Linked DNA regions of Homo sapiens. The protein of the gene in region 1 purifies or fractionates together with the protein of each later gene. This does not show direct contact. Each region holds a gene or a part of one and is shown in the gene's direction. Other genes may lie near its edges. The genes, in order: MMP19, COCH and CD109.

Evidence for each region.
Region 2: the proteins of MMP19 (region 1) and COCH purify together in Homo sapiens (affinity purification with mass spectrometry; one large-scale study listed by BioGRID and IntAct). This does not show direct contact.
Region 3: the proteins of MMP19 (region 1) and CD109 purify together in Homo sapiens (affinity purification with mass spectrometry; one large-scale study listed by BioGRID and IntAct). This does not show direct contact.

Annotation. Positions count from the first base shown.
Region 1 is NC_000012.12:55,840,130-55,844,573, reverse strand, and holds the start of MMP19 (matrix metalloproteinase-19 isoform 1 preproprotein), read left to right. Parts: upstream 1-1,637; 5' UTR 1,638-1,743; coding exon 1,744-1,830; intron 1,831-2,135; coding exon 2,136-2,221; intron 2,222-3,337; coding exon 3,338-3,468; intron 3,469-3,691; coding exon 3,692-3,907; intron 3,908-4,444. UniProt on the Homo sapiens protein: Endopeptidase that degrades various components of the extracellular matrix, such as aggrecan and cartilage oligomeric matrix protein (comp), during development, haemostasis and pathological conditions (arthritic disease).
Region 2 is NC_000014.9:30,877,421-30,881,145, forward strand, and holds part of COCH (cochlin isoform b precursor), read left to right. Parts: intron 1-151; coding exon 152-308; intron 309-1,390; coding exon 1,391-1,524; intron 1,525-2,002; coding exon 2,003-2,065; intron 2,066-3,031; coding exon 3,032-3,076; intron 3,077-3,166; coding exon 3,167-3,314; intron 3,315-3,725. UniProt on the Homo sapiens protein: Plays a role in the control of cell shape and motility in the trabecular meshwork.
Region 3 is NC_000006.12:73,804,203-73,807,702, forward strand, and holds part of CD109 (CD109 antigen isoform 1 preproprotein), read left to right. Parts: intron 1-2,641; coding exon 2,642-2,870; intron 2,871-3,500. UniProt on the Homo sapiens protein: Modulates negatively TGFB1 signaling in keratinocytes.

The DNA of each region.
Region 1 (4,444 bases):
TAATTAATTAACTAATTAACTAATTTTGAGACAGAGTCTCATTCTGTCACCAGGCTGGAGTACAGTGGCGCGATCTCAGCTCACTGCAATCTCCGCCTCCCCAGTTCAAGCAATTCTCCTGCCTCAGTCTCCCGAGTAGCTGGGATTACAGGCGCATGCCATCACGCCTGGCTAATTTTTGTATTTTTAGTAGAGACAAGATTTTGCTATGTTGGCCAGGCTAGTCTCAAACTCCTGACCTCATGGTCCGCCCACCTCAGCCTCCGAAAGTGCTGGGATTACAGACGTGAGCCACTGCTCCCGTCCGGTATTTTTAAATGTAAGTTTTTCTTCTTTTCCTTGCATAGCATTTAAGGCCCTCTCCAAATTCTGTCTCCCAACCACTTTCCCACCCTGGTCATTCTTTGACAGTGATTTATTAAGCACAGCCTCGAAAGCATGGAGGTGGCCTGGGGTAGGCACTCGGGCTTCAGTGGTGAATGAAGCAGTCGTGACCCTTCTGACTTACTGAGTACAGCAGTCTCTCAGCTCTGCACTTTTACTCAAGACCTGCACTGTCTGTCTCTCAGTATCCTTTTACCCTATCAATTCTTTTTTTTTTTGAGATGGAGTTTTTGCTCTGTTGCCCAGGCTGGAGTGCAATGGTGTGATCTCAGCTCACTGCAACCTCTGCCTCCTGGGTTCACGTGATTCTCCTGCCTCAGCCTGCCGAGTAGCTGGGATTACAGGCGCCCGCCACCATACCTGGCTAATTTTTGTATTTTTAGTAGAAACAAGGTTTCACCATGTTGGTCAGGCTGGTTTCGAACTCTTGATCTCAAGTGATTCACCCACCTCAGCCTTTCAAAGTGCTAGGATTACAGGAGCGAGCCACCATGCCTGGCCTTACCCCATCAATTCTTAGCTGGCCTTCAAAGCCCATCTCAAAGCCTGACTTCTCAGCAAACCTCCCCCCAGCCCCAAGCCCCTTAGGGTGAATCACCTCTGGCCTGGCACGCTGGCTCCCCTCTTCCCAGGTGTCTGGATCTGCCTCACTGGATCCGTAAGCTCCCTGAGGGTAGGCTCTGGGCCCTTTACTTATTTGTGCCCTTGTTAAGTCCCACCTACACCCACATATTCCAGGCTCATTAGATTCTTGAAATAATGACTTTTTATTAAAGCAGACATAAGTAGGTTGCAGGAGCATCTATATTCCCAACTTGGTCTTGGGTACAAAGAAACTGAGACTTCACGCTTGACTCCTTCACCTGAAACCCAAGCTACCTCAGCTGTTTCCTACCTCTCAGCTTATTCTAGGGAGACTCAAAGGTAGGGGCGGAGTGATTTGCTGGCCCAGGGTCCCTGAGGCACATTGATGTCTAATTCCAGGGGATGTCCATGATCCCTATCTCTAGTCTCTCCAGAGATTCTGGTTCTCGTCCTGCCTGGATGCTCACCCTAGGGCAGTATGAAGTTTTTCCATCTCCAGCAGAGGACTCTGAGGGAAGCGATTGGGAACTCTCTTTGGCTTCCGCTCTCTGGTAGGGCAAGGGTTAATGGTGAATTGCAACATATCTCTTGGCTGAGTCACCTCCCTCTGCCTCTCCCCCAAATTCCCCTCAGCTGTTATAAAGAGGACTAGAGGCTGGAGAGTAAAAAGAACTGGGGGTAAGAGCCCCTCTGCCTAGCACTGCTCCCCCAAGGCTCCCAGAAATCTCAGGTCAGAGGCACGGACAGCCTCTGGAGCTCTCGTCTGGTGGGACCATGAACTGCCAGCAGCTGTGGCTGGGCTTCCTACTCCCCATGACAGTCTCAGGCCGGGTCCTGGGGCTTGCAGAGGTGGCGCCTGTGGTAAGTCCCCCAAGAAAGAGACCTGGGCCAGCGGAGGGACAGGGGTTACTGCTCCACAGCCCCATCGAAGCCTCCCTCCTGACCTTCAGCCTGCCTGCCTTTCCCTTGCTCTCTCTGCCCCATGGTCTACCCTGCCCATCTCCCGCTGCTTCCCCTTGTTCCACCTGAGCCCCTTCTCTAAGGTGCTTCTCCATTAGTGCTTCCATATCAGGTCCCTCCTCTCCTGATGGATCTGTTAGGTCACTTAGAAGCTTTACTCTGAGACTAACCCCCTTTTAACCTGCTTACCTCCACTCCCATCATAGGACTACCTGTCACAATATGGGTACCTACAGAAGCCTCTAGAAGGATCTAATAACTTCAAGCCAGAAGATATCACCGAGGCTCTGAGGTGAGAAGCTATGAGGTGTATGCCTTTAGGGCTAAGGTCTCAAGGTCTTCTTCCTTCTCATCCCTTCCTCTCCCCAGGCCCACCTCCTCCTGACCCTAAACCATGCCAGGGATTTAGAGATGGGTGGCGATCATTATTATGGTGGTGGGGCATGGGGTGAGATGGGGATTCACAGATGAGGAATACAGGCATTGGATCTTCCTAGGCCATAAGCATTCCTTTGGAGTCTCTACCCACATCATATCTCAAATACTAATATTTAGTTATAGTCCACATAAAGTGTAATGATATGTAAAACTGAGTTGAGTTGTTGACATGCTATTACCTTTTGTGGGCCTTCAATTTGGTACTTATTTATTTCTATTTTATAGTTTTATATGTTGATGTAATGGATTATTTTTCTTTCTGCTCTCAGATATGTTCAGGTCCCTTGAAAAGCCCCTAGGCCCTATGACAGTCCATAGATGGATGAAATTGCTCCAGGGCAAGCTGGGCTGGGACGGGTATCCATTCAGGAAGGGAGAAGGCTGAAGGAGGACAGGCTGTCAGGTGGGAGCACTAGTGGAAAGCTCTCCAGAGCAGGGGAGCCAGACACCTCCACAGAGTAGGAGAAGGTTAGAAATTGCAGTAGAGGGGCTGGGCATGGTGGCTCACGCCTGTAATCCCAGCACTTTGGGAGATCCAGGCAGGGGGATTGCTTGAGCCCAGAAGTTTGACAGCAACCTGGGCAACATAATGAGACCCCATCTCTACCAAAAAAGAAAGAAAGGAAGAAAGAAAGAGAGAAGAAAAAGAAAGGAAGGAAGGAAGGAAGGAAGGAAGGAAGGAAGGAAGGAAGGAAGATTGCAGTAGAGGAGGAAGGCTACACCTGAGGGCAAACTTACTCAAATAAAAGACACTGAAAATGGGGAGATGAAGCTGGAGTATCTCCATTTCTGCAGAACAGAAGAGAAAGTCCCAGTTATGAGGACTGGAGGCTGGAGTAACCCTGTCAGCTTCAGGGATTCTGTGCTATTCTTGGCCATGAACTTGGGCAGCAGGAAGTCAAAGAGCAATCATCTCCCAGTCATTTCAGATTTTCCTGTCCTGGTAGACCCATCCCTCTCCCTCCTTCAGAGCTTTTCAGGAAGCATCTGAACTTCCAGTCTCAGGTCAGCTGGATGATGCCACAAGGGCCCGCATGAGGCAGCCTCGTTGTGGCCTAGAGGATCCCTTCAACCAGAAGACCCTTAAATACCTGTTGCTGGGTGAGAACAGAGCCTGGAAAAGAGAGGGAGAGGAGGGGGTGATGTGGTTCTGGCGTGTGGGTGGCATTAGGACAGTCTGGACCAGCTCAGTGTTGAATAGATAATCACCTGGTGATTACCTGGTTGTCACCTGTCTTGGGGGTTGAGTGCCTAAACCCAGAGGAGCTCTCTGGGGTTGGCAGAAGGATCTGTATTTCTAATCTGTTTTCTGGTCATTAACTAGGCCGCTGGAGAAAGAAGCACCTGACTTTCCGCATCTTGAACCTGCCCTCCACCCTTCCACCCCACACAGCCCGGGCAGCCCTGCGTCAAGCCTTCCAGGACTGGAGCAATGTGGCTCCCTTGACCTTCCAAGAGGTGCAGGCTGGTGCGGCTGACATCCGCCTCTCCTTCCATGGCCGCCAAAGCTCGTACTGTTCCAATACTTTTGATGGGCCTGGTAGGCAACAGTTCTCAGTTCCCACCTCATAGACCTCTGAGATTACCTCTGTCTCCTTGAACCAGTGACTCTAGAACCTTGATGTTTGGGCTGCTCTTTATCCCACCTGCACCATACGCTCTCTAATTACCTCCTAACGGGAGCACGGGCGCAGTTGGTCATCTACATGGAGCCTCCTGTTTGAAACTTCCTCCCTCCCTCCCTTCCTTCTCTCCTTCTCTCTCCTTCCCTCCCTCCCTTCCTTCTCTCCCTCCCTCCCTTCCTTCTCTCCTTCTCTCTCTCCCTCCCTCCCTCCCTTCCTTCCTTCTCTCCCTCCCTCCCTCCCTCCCTTCTTTCCTTCCTCTCTCTTGCTTGCTTGACAGTCTCACTCTGTTGCCCAGACTGGAGTACAGTGACACAATCATGGCTCACTGCAGCCTCAACCTCCCAGGCTCAAGTGATCCTCCCGCCTCAGCCTCCCAGGTAGAGACTACAGGCAAACACTACCACACCTGGCTAATTTTTGTAGAGATGAAGTTTTGCTATGTTGCCCAGGCT
Region 2 (3,725 bases), on another chromosome or scaffold:
GGAATGGTATGGAAGGGTATATAAGTCAATAGTCATAACTAGAAGTGTAGAAATTAGGGAAGTAAAACTTAAATCTCACACTGTAGTCTCCCCACCACTATGCCCCAAGAAGTCCTAAGAATGCTTACAATATTATCTCCTTTTTCTTCAGCTCCCATTGCTATCACATGTTTTACCAGAGGCTTGGACATCAGGAAAGAGAAAGCAGATGTCCTCTGCCCAGGGGGCTGCCCTCTTGAGGAATTCTCTGTGTATGGGAACATAGTATATGCTTCTGTATCGAGCATATGTGGGGCTGCTGTCCACAGGTAAGCCCAAACACACCAGGGTGGGAGAGAAATGCAGACGTGATTATTTCCTTTCCTGCTTTACCCATCTGGATCCCTTTCCTCCCTGCATTCTTTCTTTTGTTGCCATTGTGGCCACAGAAAATGGATATATTTTCACGGTTCTCCTGGATATACTTGAAACACCAAATACACATGGAAAGCTTTCTGACAAAAGGCAAATAGCATTACCTCTTGATGGCTAGATTGCTATGATTCCAAAACATTCCTAATCATGTGATATATTACTGAGTTATTACTATGTGCCACCTATTGTTTTAACTTCCACCACAACTCTACAAGGTAGGTAGAATTTTACTCCAGTTACAGATGAAGAAACTGAACTCAGAGAGTTGTCAAGTATCTTGCCCAAGGTGACTATTGTTAGCAAGTGCCATGCTATCCTGTAGTAGAATAGCCAGTATAATACTTCTAAAAAAATTCAGTCCAAAGGCATGTAGCTAAAGTGAGTATCTTAGGAAAATTGTTTGGTGCTCTGAATTTCTAAGTTGTGGGTAATGGGATATTACAAATGTGTTCTTATCAACACTTAAGAAGTTCAACAGCACAAAACCATTTTTTTCCAGGCAAATTTTGTTCTTGTGTAAGCAAGTTTTTAAAAGGCTAGCAGCAGCTGGGAGTGGTGGCTCACACCTGTAATCCCACCACTTTGGGAGGCTGAGGCGGATGGACCACTTGAGGTCAGGAGTTCGAGACCTAGCCAACATGGTGAAACCCTGTCTCTACTAAAAATACAAAAATTAGCCAGGTATGGTGGTGCATGCCTGTAATCCCAGCTACTTGGGAGGCTGAGGCAGGAGAATCACTTGAATCCTGGAGGTGGAGGTTGCAGTGAGCCGAGATCGCGCCACTGCACTCCATCCTGGGCTACAGAGCGAGACGCCATCAAATAAATAAATAAATAAAGCAGAATCTTTAGATGACTTCCCTGATGAGCTATTTTCTTGATTAATCAAAGCAATAGATACAACATGGCACTATAAGTCAGTGGGATGCCCTGAAAAAGTGTGGATAGCATCTCAGCTGCTATTCTTGTGTTACAGGGGAGTAATCAGCAACTCAGGGGGACCTGTACGAGTCTATAGCCTACCTGGTCGAGAAAACTATTCCTCAGTAGATGCCAATGGCATCCAGTCTCAAATGCTTTCTAGATGGTCTGCTTCTTTCACAGTAACTAGTAGGTATAATTATTGTTCTCATTCTGTAATATTCTCCCACCCCCCAAACGTTTTCTGCTTTTTTTAGCTCAGCCTCTTTAACCTTGATGGAAAAACCTGTGATCAAGACTAAAGCTGACCTATAGAGGTAAACTGTAGGTTAGACTGAGGGGTCAAGTACCCACTGAAGCCAAATTTGGGTGAATAGAAGACAATCTTACTGACAGATGATGGCAATAGAAACTTGAATTATTTGCAGTCAGAATGCCCGGACACTTACCAAGGAACTGAAAAACTACTAAATACATTTTTGATGATCCTTTGAAGATATAATGGATAAGCATTTTGGTTCTCTGAAACTAGCATGCAGCAGGATGTTTGTAACTACAATCACCATTACCCTATTACATTTGTCATTGTAGAGAGCTCTAAATTAGATTCATAATACTTTGGTAAAGAAGGAAAAGGAAAAAAATAAGCTTATTTTTATTTTAACAGAAGGCAAAAGTAGTACACAGGAGGCCACAGGACAAGCAGTGTCCACAGCACATCCACCAACAGGTATGAACTATGAAACCTATCTCCTAGTTGCCCGGCACAGCATTTGGAAGTTATGAATAAACGTGTTGTTGGTAGAAGCTTTTCTTAAAGAAATTTGATATTAAAGAGAAACAAAGCAAATACCTTAAGTTTACTGGTATATTACATATGGAAACATTCATTATGTGTATATTTTAAAGACAGGGTCTCACTCTGTTGCTCAGGCTGGAGTACAGTGGTGCAATCATAGCTCACTGCAGCCTTAACCTCCTAGGCTCAAGCAATCTTCTCACCTTGGCCTCCTGAGTAGGTGGTACTACAGGCACATGCCACCACACCCAGCCAATTTTTTTGATTTTTAATTTTTTTTATTTTTATTTTTTTAGACAGGTCTAGCTATGATGCCCAGGCTGGTTTTGAACTCCTGACCTCAGGCAGTCCTCCCACTTCAGCCTCCCAAAGTTCAGGGATTACAGGCATGAGCCACTGCACCCAGCCTAATAATTCTCTAAAAGTCCTATTTTCTCCCAGATTTGATAAACCACGCCTAAGAACTGGTCAAAGTACCATGAACTTCTAGTTCCATTTGCTTCATTAAATTCCTTTAATTACTGCACTGTCATGTGACTAAAAGGAATGTGTGTCTATTGTAAGAAATAGCCAGGGATCCCCTTTTGTATGACGATGGCAGTTTTAAAGTCAAAGATATTAAGAACATTAGGATTTAATGTTGAGTTCCTGCCTCACCTGTGGGTTTGGGGTATTAAAGTCCTGGATTAGGGCATATCAAATATGTAGGCCTACATACTGATTTGTTTATTTGTTGGGTCATTGCTTTCCCTAGTCCAGAAAATCCTGAGGAAATTAATTTTTTTAAAAAAGTCCTTTCAAGAATGGCACTCTGTTGTTATGAGCTTCTCCCCATGTGGGTTTCTTGCTATGTAACTGTCTTCCTTTTGTTAATGCCAAGTGCATCTTTTATTTCAGGTAAACGACTAAAGAAAACACCCGAGAAGAAAACTGGCAATAAAGGTAAGAATCAAGATCTCCATTTGGGAAGGTAGCATTTTCCCTCCCTCCTCTTGAGACTGCTAATGAGGGGACTGGTTTGGTTGTTCGCAGATTGTAAAGCAGACATTGCATTTCTGATTGATGGAAGCTTTAATATTGGGCAGCGCCGATTTAATTTACAGAAGAATTTTGTTGGAAAAGTGGCTCTAATGTTGGGAATTGGAACAGAAGGACCACATGTGGGCCTTGTTCAAGCCAGGTACCAACCTTGTTAAAATGGGAGATTTAAAAAAAAAATTATTTTGTAATTGACACATAATAATTATATATACTTATGGGGTACATAGTGATGTTTTCATACATACAATGTATAGTGGTCAAATCAGAGTAATTAGCATATCCATCACCTCAAACATTGATCATTTCTTTGTGTTGGATACATTCAAAATCAAATGAGGCCGGGTGCAGTGGCTCACGCCTGTAATTCCAGCACTTTGGAGGCCAAGTGGGTGTGTGGATCACCTGAGGTCAGGAGTTCAAAACCAGTCTGGCCAACATGTGAAACACCGTCTCTACTAAAAATACAAAAATTAGCCAGATGTGGTGGCATGCACCTGTAATCCTAGCTACTTGGGAGGCTGAGGCAGGAGAATCACTTGGACTCGGGAGG
Region 3 (3,500 bases), on another chromosome or scaffold:
TTGAATATCAGTAATGTTTACCACATGAAACTTTATATAACATGAAACAGATCTGCTTCAAATTTTCTCTTGGCCTTGGCCTGACTCAGGATATAGAACCATAAATAGAAAGCTTTCAGTGTTGTATTGCTTGATGTTCTTTTTACCTCAGTATAGTGTTTTGTAGCAGGGACTGGCAAACTTTTCTGTAAAGGGTCAGATTGTAAGTATTTCAGGCATTTTGGGCCACGTAGAGTCTCCGTTGCATGCTCTTCCCTCTTCCTCCCTCTCCTCCCTCTTTCTTTCCTGTCTTTGTCTTTTTCTTTTCCTTCTTTTAAAACCCGCTCTTAGGTGGTGGTGTTGGCAGGTGGGGGCTGGGTTGGTGCACACATAAACAGGCCCTGGGCTGTATTTGGCTTGAGGGCCAGATTTGGGCCAGGCAGATTTGGCCCACAGGCTGCAGTTGGCTAACTCCCATTCTATAGGAGAGAAAAATATCATTTTCCCCACCTGAAGTACTACAGTTTGCTTGTGAACTATGTATGCATTCTTCACCCACAGCTTTGGGGCTGACTGAAGCGTGTTGGAGCTCTTCTTTGGTAAATATCTAGAACAGTCCAAAGATGAATAACCTTGGACAATTTATTTAACTCTCTTGGACTGTCAGATTCTCAGTCTACAAAATAATGGAGCTGGATTCAACAGACACATTAAAAAATGCTCATCATCACTGGCCATCAGAGAAATGTAAATCAAAACCACAATGAGATACCATCTCACACCAGTTAGAATGGCGATCATTATAAAGGCAGGAAACAACAGGTGCTGGAGAAGTTGTGGAGAGATAGGAATACTTTTACACTGTTGGTGGGACCATAAACTAGTTCAACCATTGTGGAAGACAGTGTGGTGATTCCTCAAGGATCTAGAACTAGAAATACCATTTGACCCAGCTGTGGGGAAAAGAAAGAGAGATCAGATTGTTACCGTGTCTGTGTAGAAAGAAGTAGACATAGGAGACTCCATTTTGTTCTGTACTAAGAAAAATTCTTCTGCCTTGAGATGCTGTTAATCTGTAACCTTACCCCCAACCCTGAGCTCTCTGAAACATGTGCTGTGTCAACTCAGGGTTAAAGAATTAAGTGCTGTGCTTTAGATATGCATACACATAAACATCTCAATGCCTTAAAGAGCAGTATTGCTGCCCGCATGTCCCACCTCCAGCCCTAAGGCAGGTTTCCCCTATCTCAGTAGATGGAACATACAATCGGATTTTATACCGAGACATTCCATTGCCCAGGGACGGGCAGGAGACAGATGCCTTCCTCTTATCTCAACTGCAAAGAGGTGTTCCTTCTGCTTATACTAATCCTCCTCAGCACAGACCCTTTACGGGTGTTGGGCTGGGGGACGGTCAGGTCTTTCCCTTCCCACGAGGCCACATTTCAGACTATCACATGGGGAGAAACCTTGGACAATACCTGGCTTTCCTAGGCAGAGGTCCCTGCAGCCTTCCGCAGTGTTTGTGTCCCTGGGTACTTGAGATTAGGGAGTGGTGATGACTCTTAACGAGCATGCTGCCTTCAAGCATCTGTTTAACAAGGCACATCTTACACAGCCCTTAATCCATTTAACCCTGAGTTGACACAGCACATGTTTCAGAGGGCACGGGGTTGGGGGTAAGGTTACAGATTAACAGCATCTCAAGGCAGAAGAATTTTTCTTAGTACAGAACAAAATGGAGTCTCCTATGTCTACTTCTTTCTACACAGACACAGCAACAATCTGATCTCTCTTTCTTTTCCCCACACCCAGCCATCCCATTACTGGGTATATACCCAAAGGATTATAAATCATGCTGCTATAAAGACACATGCACACGTATGTTTATTGCGGCACTATTCACAATAGCAAAGACTTGGAACCAGCCCAAATGTCCATCAATGATAGACTGGATTAAGAAAATGTGGCACATATACACCATGGAATACTATGCAGCCATAAAAAAGGATGAGTTCATGTCCTTTGTAGGGACATGGATGAAGCTGGAAACCATCATTCTCAGCAAACTATCGCAAGGACAAAAAACCAAACACCACATGTTCTCACTCATAGGTGGAAATTGAACAATGAGAACACTTGGACACAGGAAGGGGAACATTACACACCGGGACCTGTTGTGGGGTGGGGGGATGGGGGAGGGATAGCATTAGGAGACATACCTAATGTAAATGACGCGTTAATGGGTGCAGCACACCAACATGGCACATGTACACATATGTAACAAACCTGCACGTTGTGCACATGTACCCTAGAACTTAAAGTATAATAAATAAAAATAAAATAAAATAAAATTAAATTAAAAAATGGAGCTGGATTAGATCATTTCTAAATTCCTTTTCAAATCTGAGATTTTTGAGTCAACATGGAATTTCTTGGCCAAGCCCAAGTGGAAACCAGTTCTGCCTGCTAGAGAGAGTTGCTTACCTTGTCCCTTTGCTCTTTCTTTTTTGATTTTTTTCTTTCCTTGTTCCATCTTCAGTGATTCCCCCTTTGATGAATCTTCTGATGGGGGAAAAAGTGTTGTTGTTTTGCTTGCTCGGTGTTATTTGGTGGACCTTATAAAGTGTATTTTATGTAATTTTTTTCTCTTTTCATAAAGGTTGTCAGCTTTTGTTTTAAGATGTTTCCTTGAAGCCGATCCTTACATAGATATTGATCAGAATGTGTTACACAGAACATACACTTGGCTTAAAGGACATCAGAAATCCAACGGTGAATTTTGGGATCCAGGAAGAGTGATTCATAGTGAGCTTCAAGGTGGCAATAAAAGTCCAGTAACACTTACAGCCTATATTGTAACTTCTCTCCTGGGATATAGAAAGTATCAGGTATTTCGTATTTAATTTAATAAATGATAGATGGGAAATTCAAGGAAGGTAGGTCTTAATGGGTCAAATATGTGTGTGGAAACTTAACAAGTTGCAGCTTTACAACACATGTGAAATCTGAATTTGAGTACTCTTTTGCTTTGCATTTGTGGCCATGTTCCAAAATCTGAGAATAAAACATTAACCCACTCTTTCAGAATAACTAAGAGAATTCTAAAAATGCTTTTTAATGTATGTATTGTACTTGCTATTGGTAAGATAAGTCAATACATGTTTTATCATTGAAAAAGTTAATTTCTGAGGGGAAAGAAAATTATTTAAAATTTGACAATGTGTTCTAGCAAGTTTAGATTGCAAAGGATTTTTTACTTATAAAACATCATGGAACAGTTACAATATCTGTTAATTTAGTGCTGAGAACACCCATACCCTGAAAAGTGTGTTGAATGGGCATGGATGCCTGGATGAGAATGAGTATGCGTGGAAAGGTATGCTGACGAGCTTAAGTTTGCTCCAGAGCTGTCCTGGTGATTGATGCCTTTACTGCTTACTGCCTGCTGCATTTTATGAGATCACCAAAGTCATTCTCTTTATTAGGACCCCCACTATTTTCCTATTCTACTAGTAGGC